Linked DNA regions of Homo sapiens. The protein of the gene in region 2 purifies or fractionates together with the protein of the main gene of each other region. This does not show direct contact. Each region holds a gene or a part of one and is shown on either strand. Other genes may lie near its edges.

What was found. Proteins that work in one complex are often made in the same cells at the same time.
Region 1: the proteins of UTP14A (region 2) and USP36 purify together in Homo sapiens (affinity purification with mass spectrometry; 2 studies listed by BioGRID). This does not show direct contact.

Annotation. Positions count from the first base shown.
Region 1 is NC_000017.11:78,837,813-78,845,797, forward strand, and holds the start of USP36 (ubiquitin carboxyl-terminal hydrolase 36), read right to left. Parts: upstream 3,003-7,985; 5' UTR 2,924-3,002; exon of another isoform or gene 2,467-2,923; intron 2,199-2,466; exon of another isoform or gene 2,027-2,198; intron 939-2,026; 5' UTR 775-938; intron 1-774. UniProt on the Homo sapiens protein: Deubiquitinase essential for the regulation of nucleolar structure and function. Required for cell and organism viability.
Region 2 is NC_000023.11:129,909,148-129,916,167, forward strand, and holds part of UTP14A (U3 small nucleolar RNA-associated protein 14 homolog A), read left to right. Parts: intron 1-1,860; coding exon 1,861-2,003; intron 2,004-2,618; coding exon 2,619-2,774; intron 2,775-3,431; exon of another isoform or gene 3,432-3,544; coding exon of another isoform or gene 3,545-3,563; intron 3,564-4,162; coding exon of another isoform or gene 4,163-4,248; intron 4,249-7,020. UniProt on the Homo sapiens protein: May be required for ribosome biogenesis.

The DNA of each region.
Region 1 (7,985 bases), on a different chromosome or scaffold from region 2:
TGCTCTAGTGAAAGTAAGGACTTCCTCCAGCACCTCATATTAAGCCATTCAAATTTATCACTGTGGATCATCTAATTCTATACATGGATCAAGTATCTTTTTCTACAAAAACTTCTGTAAAGAAAAGCCAGGTGCAGTGGCCTGGGCCTGTCGTCCCAGATGCTTGGGAGGCTGAGGTGGGAGGATAACTTGAGGGCAGGAGCCTGAGGCTGCAGTGAGCTATGATTACGCCTGTGAATAGCCAGTGCAGTCCAGCCTGGGCAACATCGTGAGACCCCATCTTTAAAACAAAAAAAATCGTGGCTCACGCCTGTAATCCCAGCACTTGGGAGGCCGAGACGGGTGGATCAGGAGGTCAGGAATTCAAGACCAGCCTGGCGAAGATGTTTCTCTACTAAAAATACAAAAAAACTAGCCAGGCATGGTGGCAGGCGCCTGTAATCCCAGCTACGCAGGAGGCTGAGGCAGAGAATTGCTTGAACACGGGAGGCAGAGGTTGGAGTGAGCCGAGATCGCGCCACTGCACTCCAGCCTGGGCAACAGAGCAAGACTTGGTCTCAAAAAAAAAAAAAAACAAAAAACAAAAAACTTCTGTAAAGAAATTTCAGAAGCTTATTTAAAAAAAAGCATTATAAGTTGTCTGATTTGAGAAAATAAAAGAGCCTTTTCTCATGAGAATTATCAAAGACTTCTCACCAACTGAACAATCACTGCTGCGTCACATGCAGACAATTCAACGGAATCAAAAAATACACAGAAGCCTCGCAGACTCACCTGGGATGTGCAGACTTGGGCCTGCTGTCCTACTGCGGCATGGAACCAGGATCTTAACGGAGGGCTGAGTTTGGTTGGGCAGGTGCTACGCGGAGCTCCTGAATGTAAGCGCTCCTGGACTGTGGCCTGTTCAAACACCGAAGCCGCAGAGCGGGCGTCAGAGCCTGTGGGAGGGACAGGGAGACCATCAGTGGAGGCGACTCTTCCTGTGCCTTCTCTTCAGCTACTTCCCAGGGATGCGGCGCGCACCGGGAACCCTCTACCACGAAAAAGCCGTCCAAGGAGCATCCACGCGTGCACTCAGGATGAGGCGGGTGGACCGTACTACCTCATCACCAGTTGTTGTAATGCACACGATATGAACACCTTAACCTTGACCCCAGACAAGCCCAGAGAAGGAAAACCTCCCCAACACCTGCCAGTCAGCTCCAGTCTAATCTTATTTCCAAAGAGTAAGAGGTAATAAATCCCCAAGTTTTGGATTTAATGAACCAGTAAAACTTCAATAACAACAACAACAAACCTCAGGGAGTAATAGGAGTTGCCAAAATTTTGCTTTGCTAAGTGTGGATTTTCTCTTTCATTACCATCTACGATCACTATGATTACATAAAATTAAGGTTCGTAAAAACAGTTTACAGTGAAAACATTCAAACACACAGATGGAGAACCGCACAGGGAGCACATGAGCCCCCCTTATTCAGCCTCAGTAACTACATCTGACCCATCCTGAGTCACTTCCCATCCCCAGGTAATTCTACAGCAAATCTCAGACCTATGACTTCATCCATAAATAAAAGCATACCAACTCCCGAAAAATGTGTAAGGAAATGATCTCAGAATAAAAGCCATCTACAAAGTGAAGACATCCAGTCGTATTAAAAACTCCCCACAATATCACTGCTTTCGGTTAGGACTCACATCTACCCTGGAAGGTGAGAACTCTGTCATGCACAACCAACGCTTGAGAACCACTTAGGGAGGGGATAAACGAACCTTGGGAGATGTAACCCAGTTTCACTCGAGATAAGTAACTTTGAACTTAACCCACTCCTTAATGTAGATGCAGAGATTTTGAACACAATTTTTCAAGTGGGACAGGTCAATCTCTACTTCACCAATTCCACCTAAAACATTAAGCAATAACCTAAACAACGCTCGCTCGCTCTCTGACGTGTAGGAGCCCGAGACAAGTGTTCCTGTAATCACTAGCAATCCCTCCGACGCACACACCATCCACACTCTACCCAACTCAGGAAGGATGCTCTCTCTTGTCCAAGGACAGCACAGGCCTCATCCACATTTCCACCTGCGCGAACCCCAGCCAGCACCATTTAGGCTCATTCCCGCTCCCTCCTCCTTCTAAAGTCACTTTTCCAGGATGAACTGCAACGGACGCTCGCAGGGTCAACCACGTGCTGGGGAGAGGAGCCCACGGAAGCAGCGGCCTCCCGGGGCCCAGCGCCGCGCTCCAGGGGCCTCCCGGGCGACTCCGCAGCGCCTGCCCCGAGCCCGGCCGCGGACACAGCGACCCGAGCACCTCTCCCCGAGCATGGCTCCGTGGCGAGCGTTACGTAAACGGGGGCGCGCGGAGTCTCCCCTCTCGTGTGTCTGGGTTTGGCGGCCGCCACTCCAGCCCCAGGCCCAGGACCCCCACGCCACCCGCCAGAAGCAGCAGCATCGGAACCGCACCCCGCCCCGGGCTCCATGGCCTCCTCCGCAACCACGAGGAAGGTGCCCGCCCCGGGGCCGCACCCGCCCCGCTGAGCTCTGCGGCCGCACGCGACGCCCTCGCCCTGATTCCGACTTCAACCTCTCCGAAGTTGACCTGAATCCTGCACAGACAGCGGGCCCCGGCGACCCCCATCACCGGCCCGGAGCCCGGGGGACGGCGGAGACCGGCGAGGACAGCCCGGCCCCGGACCCTCCTCGGGAATACCCGGGCTCTGGAGAAGCGAGCTCGCGAGCGGGCGGAGCATCCCGGGTCCTCCTCGGGGACGGCCGAAGCCCTGCGCGGACCCGCGCCCACGTTCTCCCTGAGCGTCCCGGCTGCGCCCGCCAGCCCTTCCCGCGCCCCAGGCCTCGCGGAACCCCCCGCCCCGGTCTCGTCCCCAGGCCTGCGCACCGCCCCGACCCGACCCCAGCCTACCCCGGCCTCTCCGCGGGCGCGCCACAAGCCTACGCAGCCCTGGCGACTCCTTCGGCCCGCGGCCCAGCACGCGCACCATCCGGGCCTCCGGCGCCTCACACACGTGTCACCGCGACGCTTAAAGGCGCCGCACCCAGCGTTCGCGCTGCGCTAACTCCGAAAGGGTTGGGAGGCTTTAAGAGGCGGGGCTAGATTCCGCTAACTCCCTGTCCCCGCCCACCGCCGCTTCCGTGTCGCCTACGTCACCTCCCCATCACGGGACCCCGCCAGCCTACGTGATGACGCAAGTGCGCAGAGCCACAGGCGCTCCCGCCCCTGTGCCGCGGCAGGGTGACGTCTCCGCAGCGCACTAGAGGTGCCGCTACTTCCGGGTCGGCCGAGCACACCTGGCGGCGTGGCGGACGCCTGAAGTGTGACAGTGGCGCGCGCCCCCGCCCCAGAACGGGGACTCGAGGGACTTTGCCCACCCCTGCAACAGCCCTCCCGCGCTGTCTCCCGGGCAGGGAGAAGGCTGGGCTCCCCCACCTGCCCCTGGCCGTCAGGTGGCTGTGGAGAAGCGGAGGCGCGGGCGCTCGGCCTTAACGTCCCGGGCTCTGGGGCCATCCGTGACTCCCACACGCGGAGCACCTGCAGTTTGGGGAGGGAGGGATCTGGGAGCGATCGGCCAAAGCCTGGGGCTGCCGAGGAAATGGCTCTTCGGAATTAGGGATCTGAGAGTGTGAGATTTGACCTTTGTAGGCTGGTGGCGGCTGTGCAATCTCTAGCTCCACCCACTCCCTCCAAAAGCTTTGTCCTCTGACAGCTCTGCGAAGGTTTTAGCTGAGTATTTGTGAGCACGTATTTCTTTTGCAGTATTTTTAAAAATCCTCTTGATCTGAGGCAACTTCGCTGGCTTCCTCCCCATTCCCTTGGGCAGGTTGAGAGTGTTGGTTCCTGGCCTGACCTCAGAAACTCAGAGAAGCACAGGATGGGCATAAACTACTTTATCCAAAAGGCAGAACTTTGCAAACACAGTCGTATCTGCTGTGTCTTTTTTGATGTAAGTAGGAATGATGAGTAGGGTGAAGTCACAGGTAAACAACCCAAAACGAATTTCCATGCCCTCCCCACGGATCCTAAAGCAGGGACTGGAGATGGGGAGAGAGGCTAGATGTACTTGGAACAAAATTCACCTTGTATTTATTACCTGGGCGCTGGTGTTTTTTGAAAAAAGCAAACAAGATAACCATATTAGTCTGATGCTGAGACTATGCCCTATCTGTAAGAATCCTTGGGCTGGGCGCGGTGGCTCACCCTTGTAATCCCAACACTTGGAGGCCAAGGTGGGCGGATCACCTGAGGTCAGGAGTTCGAGACCAGCATGGCCAACATGGTGAAACCCCGTCTCTACTAAACATACAAAAATTAGCTGGGTGTGGTGGTGGGCGCCTGTAATCCCAGCTACTCAGGAGGCTGAGGCACGAGAATCCCTTGAACCTAGGAGGCGGAGGTTGCAGCGAGCTGAGATGTCGCCACTGCACTCCAGCCTGGGCGACAGAGCGAGACTCCGTCTCAAAAGAAAAGAAAAGAAAAGAAAAAAAGGCAGGGCACAGTGGCTCACGCCTGTAATCCTAGCACTTTGGGAGGCCGAGGCAGGCAGATCGCTTGAGGTCAGGAATTCCAGACCAGCCTGGCCAACATGGTGAAAACCTGTCTCTACTAAAAATACAAAAATTAGCTGGGTATGGTGGCGCACGCCTGTAATCCGAGCTACTAGGGAGGCTGAGACAGGAGAATCGCTTGTACCTGGGAGGTGGAGGTTGCAATGAGCTGAGATCGTGCCATTGCACTCCAGCAGCCTGGACAACAGAGCAATACTTGGTCTAAAAAAAAAAAAAAGAAAGAAATGCAACGTAGGTCTCTCACGAAATTAGCCCAAATCTTCAGCCATCTTCTACAGGCTGTGAAACCAGGAGAGGAATTGAGTCCATCTTACCTTGACCTCCCAGGCAGGGAGCGGACCAGGTAATTTTTGGGTGACAATACAACTATTCTGTTAATGCACCTTTTTCTTGAGGTAAGTTCTAATGTGATCCGTTTTGGTTACAGCTTTCTATAACAGAATATTTTATTCTTTCATCTTTAATGTTTCTCTAGTTTTCTCTTTTAGGATTTAGAGATCATTCAGTCTCATCTCAAATATTTCAATTTCCATGTGGTTCTTTCATAAACATTTATCCACAGTGAGCCTGCCCTGCATTCTTTGGGTGTGGCTGACAGTTGCAGCCACCCTCAGGTCTGCGGGGGTGGGTGTGTTGCCCCTGAACTGCAATAGCAGAATTTCTCCCTAGCCTGGCAGGGGAGTGCAATCGTGGACTTGCTTTTCCACCCGCTGGGGTTGCATTTCATAGGTGCCGAGTGCCTGGGGGGCCCAGGCCTTTTCACATGAGGGTTTTCAGCCCAGATGTCCCTCCTGCTCTAGGGGAACCCTTCACATCAGTCAGGTGACTTGCTGGACTGGTAGAGCCTCTGCCATCAGCCTCTGATGCAAAACCTTTTCTCAGGTGTCTGTGCGGTCCATGGAGACCCGAGTTCCCAGGTTTGGGAGGGATGCCACTTTCCTTAGGAAGAACAGCAATGTATGTCGTCCTTCCCATCCATGCAGATGGGACAGGGCTCTCAGGAAATCTGCCATTAGCATCGCCCTAGAAGATGCACAGGCAGAGGCAGCTGCTGGGCACAGGCACTTGGGGAAGACAGGAGCCATGACGCCACGCCACCTGTTGGTACCCAAAGGAAGTGGCTCTTTTGGCTGCTTGGCACCATTCTTATGACCCTTCCATTTTGTTTCTAGTCTCAGAAGGGGTGGAGAAAGTCATCCTTCCTAAATGGTGTTGACTCTCAGACATCTGACCGTGCCAGGAGAATGGCTGTGCAAGGCGGCAGCCCAGGCCCGGGCAGGTGGCGGCCAGGAGTTGGGACCACAGAGGGCACTAGCAAGAGCAGCAGCTGCTCCGAGATGCTTTGGCACAAGTCAGGATACGTATTTTGTAGTTTTCTCTTGTTTTTTATTTTTCTGAGGTGGAGTCTCACTCTGTCGCCCAGGCTGGAGTGCAGTGGTGCAATCTCAGCTCACTGCAAGCTCCGCCTCCCGGGTTCAAGCGATTATCGTGTCTCGGCCTCCAGAGTAGCTGGGATCACAGGTGCACGCCACCACACCCAGCTGATTTTTGTATTTTTAGTAGAGATGGGGTTTCGCCATGTTTGGTCTTGAACTCTTGGCCTCAGGTGATCTGCCCCCCTCAGCCTCCCAGAGTGCAAGGATTACAGGCGTGAGCCACCGCACCCCACCTCCCGGCCTTTTCTCTTGTTTCATTTTGGTAAACTAAATTAGTTTAATACCTCTACCCCATCGGTGGTTGGAATTCCCCACCTCAATCATTTTGGGGGCTCTCTGCCTCCTTTGAATAGGACAGATCTCCAGGGGTTTACCCAGGCTCCGAAGAGCCACTCCAGGCAGCCGGCTGTTTGGGGAGGTGCACCCTGGTCTTCTAGTCTGCGGATTCCCTGCATCGCTCCCCTGGTACTGCTCTCAAGCTCAAGGGTCACCTCAGCCAGATGTGCCCTAGGCTGGCAGAGGTCCTTCCCCTAAATGCAGCTGGGCAGGATGCCACCCTTTCTACAATAAGTTCGGTCCCAGGGATTCCCCCAACACACACACACATACATTCTCTCTTACTCACATCCTCACACACACTCACACACCCCACCACACTCACACACTTTCAAAATCCACCGACTCTCACGCTCACACTCGCCAGCCCTTTCCCTTGCTCTGTCACTTCCCTCCAAGTCCCCGCCCCACACAGCCTCCTGCAGTCCCAGCCCCCTTGGTGCCAGCCATCTCTGGTGCCAGCCATCTCCCCCAAATATCCACCCTTCTGGGCTCCTTTCTGCCCAGAGGGACCTGAAGTTTCCCTAGGAAGCACTTGCTAAAGGCCTCCAGTCTCCAACTCCTGGGGAAGAAGGATCCAGGCCTCTGCCGCACAAAGCCTCCACTGTTCTCTTGGGGCTGGCACCCCTTCCTGTGGCCCTGTGGCACCAAACAAATTGATTCATCCAGCGAATATTTCTTATTTACTCTGTTCCACATGGTGGTGAGTGAATCAACCCTGGACTCTCCCCACAAAGGACTTAAGAACACGCAGGTCATGAACAAATGAACACTTTTGCATAATTTTTATGACCAACGGTGACCAGGCCAAGAGCAGGATGAGGTGATGGAGAATACCTTGGCCTGGGGCATCGGAGGAAACTCTTGCGAGGATGTGCTACCTCCGTTGAAAGTGGGAAGATGAGAGACCGGCTGTAAGAGGAGCAAGGGAAGGAGGTTCTGGAATGAGAGAACAGCACGAACAAAATGCCCGAGACAGGAGCGAGCTTGGCACCTTCAAGAAAATAAAGAGGAGAATCACTGAACCTGGCACGTGGAGGTTGCAATGAGCTGAGATCGCGCCACTGCACTCCAGCCTGCGAGACAGAGCGAGACTCCATCTCAAAAAAAAAAAAAAAAAAAAAAAGGAAAGAAAAGGAGGCCATTGGGATGGCTGAGGCTGGAAGGGTGGACCAGGTGCCCCACAGGCAAGAGGTCCCAACTATAGATGAAGCACGCAGGCTACAGACAGGTGAGTGGTGCCTCGGGTGAGAGGCAAGTTTGTCTCCATAGGTCATCCTGCTACACGGAATTCTCCAGAATCCCCTGCAAAGGTGTAGATGGGCTGGGTGCAGTAGCTCATGCCTCTAATCCCAGCACTTTGGGAGGTCGAGTCGGGCGGATCACCTTGAGGTCAGAAGTTCAAGACCAGCCTGACTAACATGGTGAAACCCTGTCTCAACTAGAATACAAAAATTAGCTGGGCATGGTGGCATTTGCCTGTAGTCCCATCTACTCAGGAGGCTGAGGCAGGAGAATTGCTTGAACCCGGGAGGTGGAGGTTGCAGTGAGCCGAGATCGCGCCACCGCACTCCAGCCTTGGTGACAGAGCGAGACTCTGTCTCAAAAAAAAAAAAAAAAAAAAAGGTG
Region 2 (7,020 bases):
GTACAGTATTTCTCAACCTTTGCTTTTTTATTGCTCCCCTGAGAGGAGCCTTTCAAGCCTTTTTTTTTTTTTTTTTTTTTGAGACAGAGTCTCACTCTATCGCCCAGGCTGGAGTGCAGTGGTGCGATCTTGGCTCACTGCAAACTCCGCCTCCCAGGTTCACGCCATTCTCCTTCCTCAGCCTCCCGAGTATCTGGGACTACAGGTGCCCGCCACCGCGCCTGGCTAGTTTTTTGTATTTTTAGTAGAGACGGGGTTTCACCGTGTTAGCCAGGATGGTCTGGATCTCCTGACCTCGTGATCCACCCGCCGCAGCCTCTCAAAGTGCTGGGATTACAGGCGTGAGCCACCGTGCGCGGCCTCAAGACATTTTTTTCCTCATTGTATCCCTCCCCCTGTGCCCCTTCCCCAGGAAATCAAGTCCTAAGGAATAAGAGTTTGTTGGACAGAGTTGAGCCTTGGAGGGACACAAAACATTGTAATATCTAAGATTTTTTTCATACTCTCCCAGAAAGAACCAATTTTCACCCTGGGGTGGCGGGGTGGTAAAATTGCCCCTGTTCAGAATACATGCTCTAATAAGCGGCAGCCATGGGATTTTATCCTAATACTGAGTCTAGATGCCAAATCTTTTTCACCCTGTTCACAACTTAGGCAGCTAGAATGGGTCTTGCATTTGTAGTAATCACTGGTGTAGCCTCCTAGGGCAAATAACAATGTATTCCAAGCGTACTTATTCAGTGGATATTTATTGTGTTTCTACTAGGTAGCAGTATCAGGAACTGTTGTAGATACCAAGGTTAAAGTAGCGAATAAGATGTGAGCTCATGGGGTTTACATTCTAATGAAGGGAGACAATAAGAGAGGATGATGCAGTAAAGCAACTAAGTGGCTACTTTAGATCGGTTGGTCATGAAAGGCCCCTGAAGAGGCAAAATTGAAGCCGAGATCTGAATGACAAGTCAAGTCAACCATGCAAAGATTGGGGAAAGCATTTCAGGCCAAGGAACAGCTAGCACAAAGGCTCTAAGGTAGAAACATGCACAACATGTTGAAGAATAGGAAAGAGGCCCCTGTGACAAAAGCATTCTAGAGGGTGGGGGTTGATATGAGGTTAGAGAGGCAGATGGGGATTAGATCTCATAGGACCATGTCCTTTAGGTAGATGAGATTCAAAGTATAATGGGGAGTCACTGGAGGATTTTCAGCAGGGTCATGACATGCTGTGGTTTATATTTTCGAAAGATAATTTTGGGCTGGATACAGTGGTTTACACCTGTAATCTCCAGCACTTTGGGAGGCCGAGGTGGGCGGACTGCTTCAGCCCAGCCATTTGAGGCTGGCCTGGGCAACATGGCAAAACCCCATCTCTACAAAAAAAAAATTAAAAAAATTAACCACGCGTGGTGGCACGCGCCTATAGTGCCAGCTACTTGGGAGGATTGCCTGAGCCTGGGAGGCAGAGATGGCACCACTGCTCTCCAGCCTAAGTGACAGAGTGAGACCCTGTCTCAAAACAAACAACAACAACAGCAAAAAGATCACTTTGGCTGTTTTTATTTTTGGCTGTTATGTGAAGAATGAATTGCAATGGGGCAAGAGTAGAAGCACCAGGAGAAAAGCAAATGAGTTTTGAATAAATATTTTCCCCTATCTTCTACCCCCTAACACGTTTGGGGATGAATGTAGAAGAGTGATAGTGTTGGCATGGCTAGAAATAGGCAATTGAAGTAAGAGAATTATTCTTGCTTCTCTGCACATTTGCCATCTACTGGCATTTTCTACTGAGGCTTCTCCCTACATTATATTGAGATCTTGTCTCACTTCTTGGTCTGACCAGAAAGTTTGACCTTTCCACAGGATCAGGAGAAAAGCTGGTCCTTGCAGATCTGCTTGAGCCTGTTAAAACTTCATCTTCTTTGGCCACTGTGAAAAAGCAACTGAGTAGAGTCAAATCAAAGAAGACAGTGGAGTTACCTCTGAACAAAGAAGAGATTGAACGGGTAAGCTACAGAGAAGGTGGTCTATTAAGGGAAAGAAATTGAATTGACAAGGGAAAATAGGGTAATAGAAAGAAGGGAAAGACCTGAAAAATGGGAGAAGGGGGAGTTGTGATTTCCCCACTATGGATAAGATTAAAAATAATCTAGGAGTGCCAGGCGCGGTGGCTCACGTCTGTAATCCCAGCACTTTGGGAGGCTGAGGTAGGCGGATCACCTGAGGTCAGGAGTTCGAGACCAGCCTGTCCAACATGGTGAAACCCCGTCTCTACTAAAAATACAAAATTAGCCGGGTGTGGTGTAATCCCAGCTACTTGGGAGGCTGAGGCAGGAGAATCCCTTGAACCAGGACGTGGAGGTTGCAGTGAGCTGAGATTGCACCATTGCTCTCCAGCCTGGGCAACACGAGTGAAACTCCATCTAAATAATAATAATAATCTAGGAGAAATTGCAGTCCTGAGAAGCAAGAGGACTAGCATCCTGATTCTTTCATCCTGATTCTAGCATCCTGATTCTTTCTTGGGCTAAGAAATGTTGCTTCCTAATTTCTTGTTAGTCCTTTGGGTTTGATGCTTTAATCTTGTGGCTCTTTCCGTTTACATGCCTTGCCTGCTTCAGATCCACAGAGAAGTAGCATTCAATAAAACCGCACAAGTCCTCTCCAAATGGGACCCTGTCGTCCTGAAGAACCGGCAGGCAGAGCAGCTGGTTTTTCCCCTGGAGAAAGAGGAGCCAGCCATTGCTCCCATTGAACATGTGCTCAGTGGCTGGAAGGTGAGTACAACAAAATGAAACTGAAAGGTGAGATTTTATAAGTTGGAGATTTCAGAGCCTGCAATTGATTTGATTGGACATGTTAAGCTAAACCCCAGCATAAGTCATTTTAGCTTAGTGCTCAGAAAGAAGGGGTTGCCCATCGTCATTGTCAGTCATGTGATAGCCAGTCACAATAGCTCTGTGATCACTTTTTTTTTTTTTTTCTTGAGACAGGGTCTTGCTCTGTCGCCCAGGCTGGAGTGCAGTGGCACGATCTCAGCTCACTGCAACCTCTGCCTCCTGGGTTCAAGCAATTCTCCTGCCTCAGCCTCCCAAGTAGCTGGGATTACTGGCGTGCACCAACACGCCCAGCTAATTTTTTTTTTTTTGGATTTTTAGTAGAGATGGGGTTTCACCATGTTGGCCAGGCTGATCTCAAACTCCTGACCTCAAATGATCCGCCCACCTCAGTCTCCCAAAAGTTTTGTGATTACGGGCATGAGCCAATGCGCCCGGTCTCTGTGTCACTTTTCATCTGCTTGTAGTATACAGTACTTGCTATTTCCATGTTTTTGTGTTAAACCATGTGATTGCCCGTATAGCAGGAACATAATAATGTTTTCTTTCTTTTACCCCAGTTTTTAAAAAGCATTTAAAGCCACATTCTGATCCTAGGGAAATCAGGAACTCGATAACATTAATGATGCCTTAGTGAGGATATGTGAACAACAGAAGCCAAACTTTGCTTGTACAGGAATACCGCATTAAAATATAATGTGTTGCTGGCAATGACTAGAACTTCAGCAGGTAACTTACTATGACTCTGAGCTGCAGGGCAGGGGTTGATGTTTTAGAGCTGGGTTTCCCAAACACTGACCCCTAACAAAGTTTGTGTCTGAAGCAAAAGGATAATTCTAAGTATGTTTGTTTGGTGGGTGTAATGTTGCCAGTTCTTTTTTATTATGAGGTTATTCTATTTTAATGGTGTTGAAATATCTTTTCTTCTATGAAATGATGGTGGTAGTAAATGATGGGATTGGGGGTGAAATGGTAGTTATGCTCTTGGCAAAATTAGAAGTTGGAAATCCTATGTTGGTCCCTGAAGTCCGGTTTTTAGTCCGAATAACTGCTTTAGAACAGCTAGCCTACTTTTCCAATACACCATTGGTATGGAGTCTATAATGGGCTGATTAGTCTTAAATAGATGCCCTCTTTGTGCTTCTCCTCTTTACTTTCCAAAAACCCAAGAATGGTAGTTTCTTAGGCGTTGGGAAGTTGAGCTAATTAAAGCTAATCAAAGTAAACATTGCTTGCCACAATAGCTAGAAATTGAGCGAGTAGTTGCTTATTATGGGGATAAGCTGTTTCTGATGTTTTTGCTGAAGTCACTACCATTCTCTTTCTAGGAGGCTTCCTTTTCTACATGAAAAAGAGATCAGGTTTAAAGTGTGGCTGCAGGATGAAGGGAGACTTTAGAAAAAAAAAATCAGAGGTAATACAATTTGTAGGATTCAAAAATAAAAAAGCATAGAAGATATGTAGTGAAAAGTTTGATTCCACCCGTGCCCCATCTGATCATTTTTACCCCCATACTCACCCAGAAGTAACCACTTGCATAAGTTTGCTGTTGTTGTTGTCTTAGAGTTTTATTTCTATATTCATGTTTACCTCCTTTTTAAATAAAAAGAAGGGTAGCATGCTACTACACACTGTCCTCCACCTTGCTTTTTCCAAATGACAGTGTAATCTTGGAGATAGCAGGAAAATGCCAAGTTTGTTATTAAAAACGAGATGGGGCCGGGTGTGGTGGCTCACGCCTGTAATCCCAGCACTTTGGGAGGCCGAGGCAGGTGGATCACCTGAGGTCAGGAGTTTGAGACCATCCTGGCCAACATGGCGAAACCCCATCTCTACTAAAAATACAAAAATTAGCGGGGCATGGTGGTGTGTGCCTGTAATCCCAGCTACTAGGGGGGCTGAGGCAGGAGGATCACTTGAACCTGGGAGGCGGAGGTTGCAGTGAGCCGAGATTGTGCCACTGCACTCCAGCCTGTGCAATAGAATGAGACTCTGTCTCAAAATATATATATAAATAAATAAAAAATAAAAACTAGATGGTAGTGGAGGAGGTTACACTAAGAATAGAACAACCTCTTCAAGATAGAGTGAGGCTCAGATGTCATACATTGAATATACCATGCCGTTCATTCATTCTAAGACTGACTTTTGAGAAATTATGCTAGTAGGGCACAGAGAAATAAGGAAGTGCTTAGTTCAGAGGGTGCTTTGTGGCTAGCAACTCCTAGGTCTCTCCTTACAACTTAGATTGCAAAGTACCAACAACTAGTATATGCTGTATTAGGATTTCTAGAAACTGAATATCAAGTCTCAGACCAGGCACGGTGGCTCACGCCTATAATCCAAGCACTTTGGGAGGCTGAGGCAGGTGGATCACCTGAGGTCAGGAGTTCAAGACCAGCCTGGCCAACATGGTGAAACCTCGTCTTTACTAAAAATATGTAAATTAGCCGGGCATGGTAGCACATGCCTGTAGTCTCAGCTGCTGAGGAGGCTGAGGCAGGGGAATTTCTTGAATCCAGGAGGCAGAAGGTACAGTGAGCCGAGATCACGCCACTGCACTCCAGCCTGAGGAAAAAAAAAAACCCTCTACTCTTTCCCCGCCCTCCCCCAAAAAAAAGAAAAGAAAATCGAAAGTCTGTACTATAGTTTTGGTCCAGCTCCCTAAAATTTTGTTTAGCTGCAAATAATTAAGTGGGATAATGCATGAGAAGGCATTTGTAAACTGCAAAGTGCTAGAAATGCTGTGAGGTAACTTCTTTCACCCCTCTCCTCACTATTCTCTGTCTACAGTGGTATTTCCCAAGGCATTCTCCTTGAAACCTTAGTCTCTCATTATGCCTTCACAAGAGGAGGAGAGGAGGCATTGCTAGAAAATGCTGCATGCCCCTACTGGAGATCGGAGAGTCACAACATGCTTTAGCATTTTAAAGTCTATGAAACAGGCCAGACGGATGTGGTGGCTCACGCCTGTAATCCCAGCACTTTGGAAGGCTAAGGCGGGTGGATCACCTGAGGTTAGGAGTTTGAGACCAGCCTGACCAACGTGGCAAAACATCGTCTCTACTAAAAAATATTAAAAAATTAGCTGGACGTGGTGGCTTATGCCTGTAATCCCAGCTACTCAAGAGGCTGAGGCACCAGAATCGCTTGAACCCAGGAGGCGGAGGTTGCAGTAAGCCAAGGTTGGGCCACTGTACTCCAACCTGGGCAACAGAGTGAGACTCTGTCTCAAAAATAAAAAATAAAAATAAAGGCTATGGGCCGGGCGTGGTGGCTCACGCCTGTAATCCCAGCACTTTGGGAGGCTGAGGTGGGTGGATCACAAGGTCAGGAGATCGAGACCATCCTGGCTAACACGGTGAAACCCCGTCTCTACTAAAAATATAAAAAATTAGCTGGGCACGGTGGCGGGCGCCTATAGTCCCAGCTACTTGGGAGGCTGAGGCAGGAGAATGGCATGAACCTGGGAGGCGGAGCTTGCAGTGAACCAAGATCGTGCCACTGCACTCCAGCCTGGGCGACAGAGCGAGACTCTGTCTCAAAAAAAAAAAAAAAAAAAGGCTATGAAACAATGGTGAAGACACCTGTTGGATCTAATTTAACTTAGGGTGTACAAACTGATTTTATTAAAATTTCAAAAAAATTGAATTTTAAGCTTTTAACAGGGGAGGCAAATCTTGTTATCTGATGAGAAATGTGTTTGGGGAAGAGCTGGTCTGTCTCCACTGCTGCCTCCTCTCTCTCACCTTCTTCCCCTACTGCCCTACTGAAACTTCTCTCAAAAGGCATTAGTGAGGGGCCTCCGAATTGCCAAATCCCAAGCCCTCTTAGTCTTTAGCATATTTGACACCATTGGCACATTTCATTCTAAAAATCTCTCCCCTCTAGCTTCTGTGATATACTCTGGGTATTTTCTCTCTCTGGCTTTCCTTAGTCCTTTTTATTCTTGCTCTGTAAATTCCATGACTTTTTTTTTTTTTTTTTTTTGAGACGGAGTCTTGCTCTGTCGCCCAGGCTGGAGTGCAGTGGTGCAATCTCGGCTCACTGCAAGCTCCACCTCCCGGGTTCACGCCATTCTCCTGCCTCAGCCTCCCAAGTAGCTGGGACTACAGGTGCCCGCCACCACGCCCAGCTAATTTTTTGTATTTTTTAGTAGAGACGGGGTTTCACCGTGTTAGCCAGG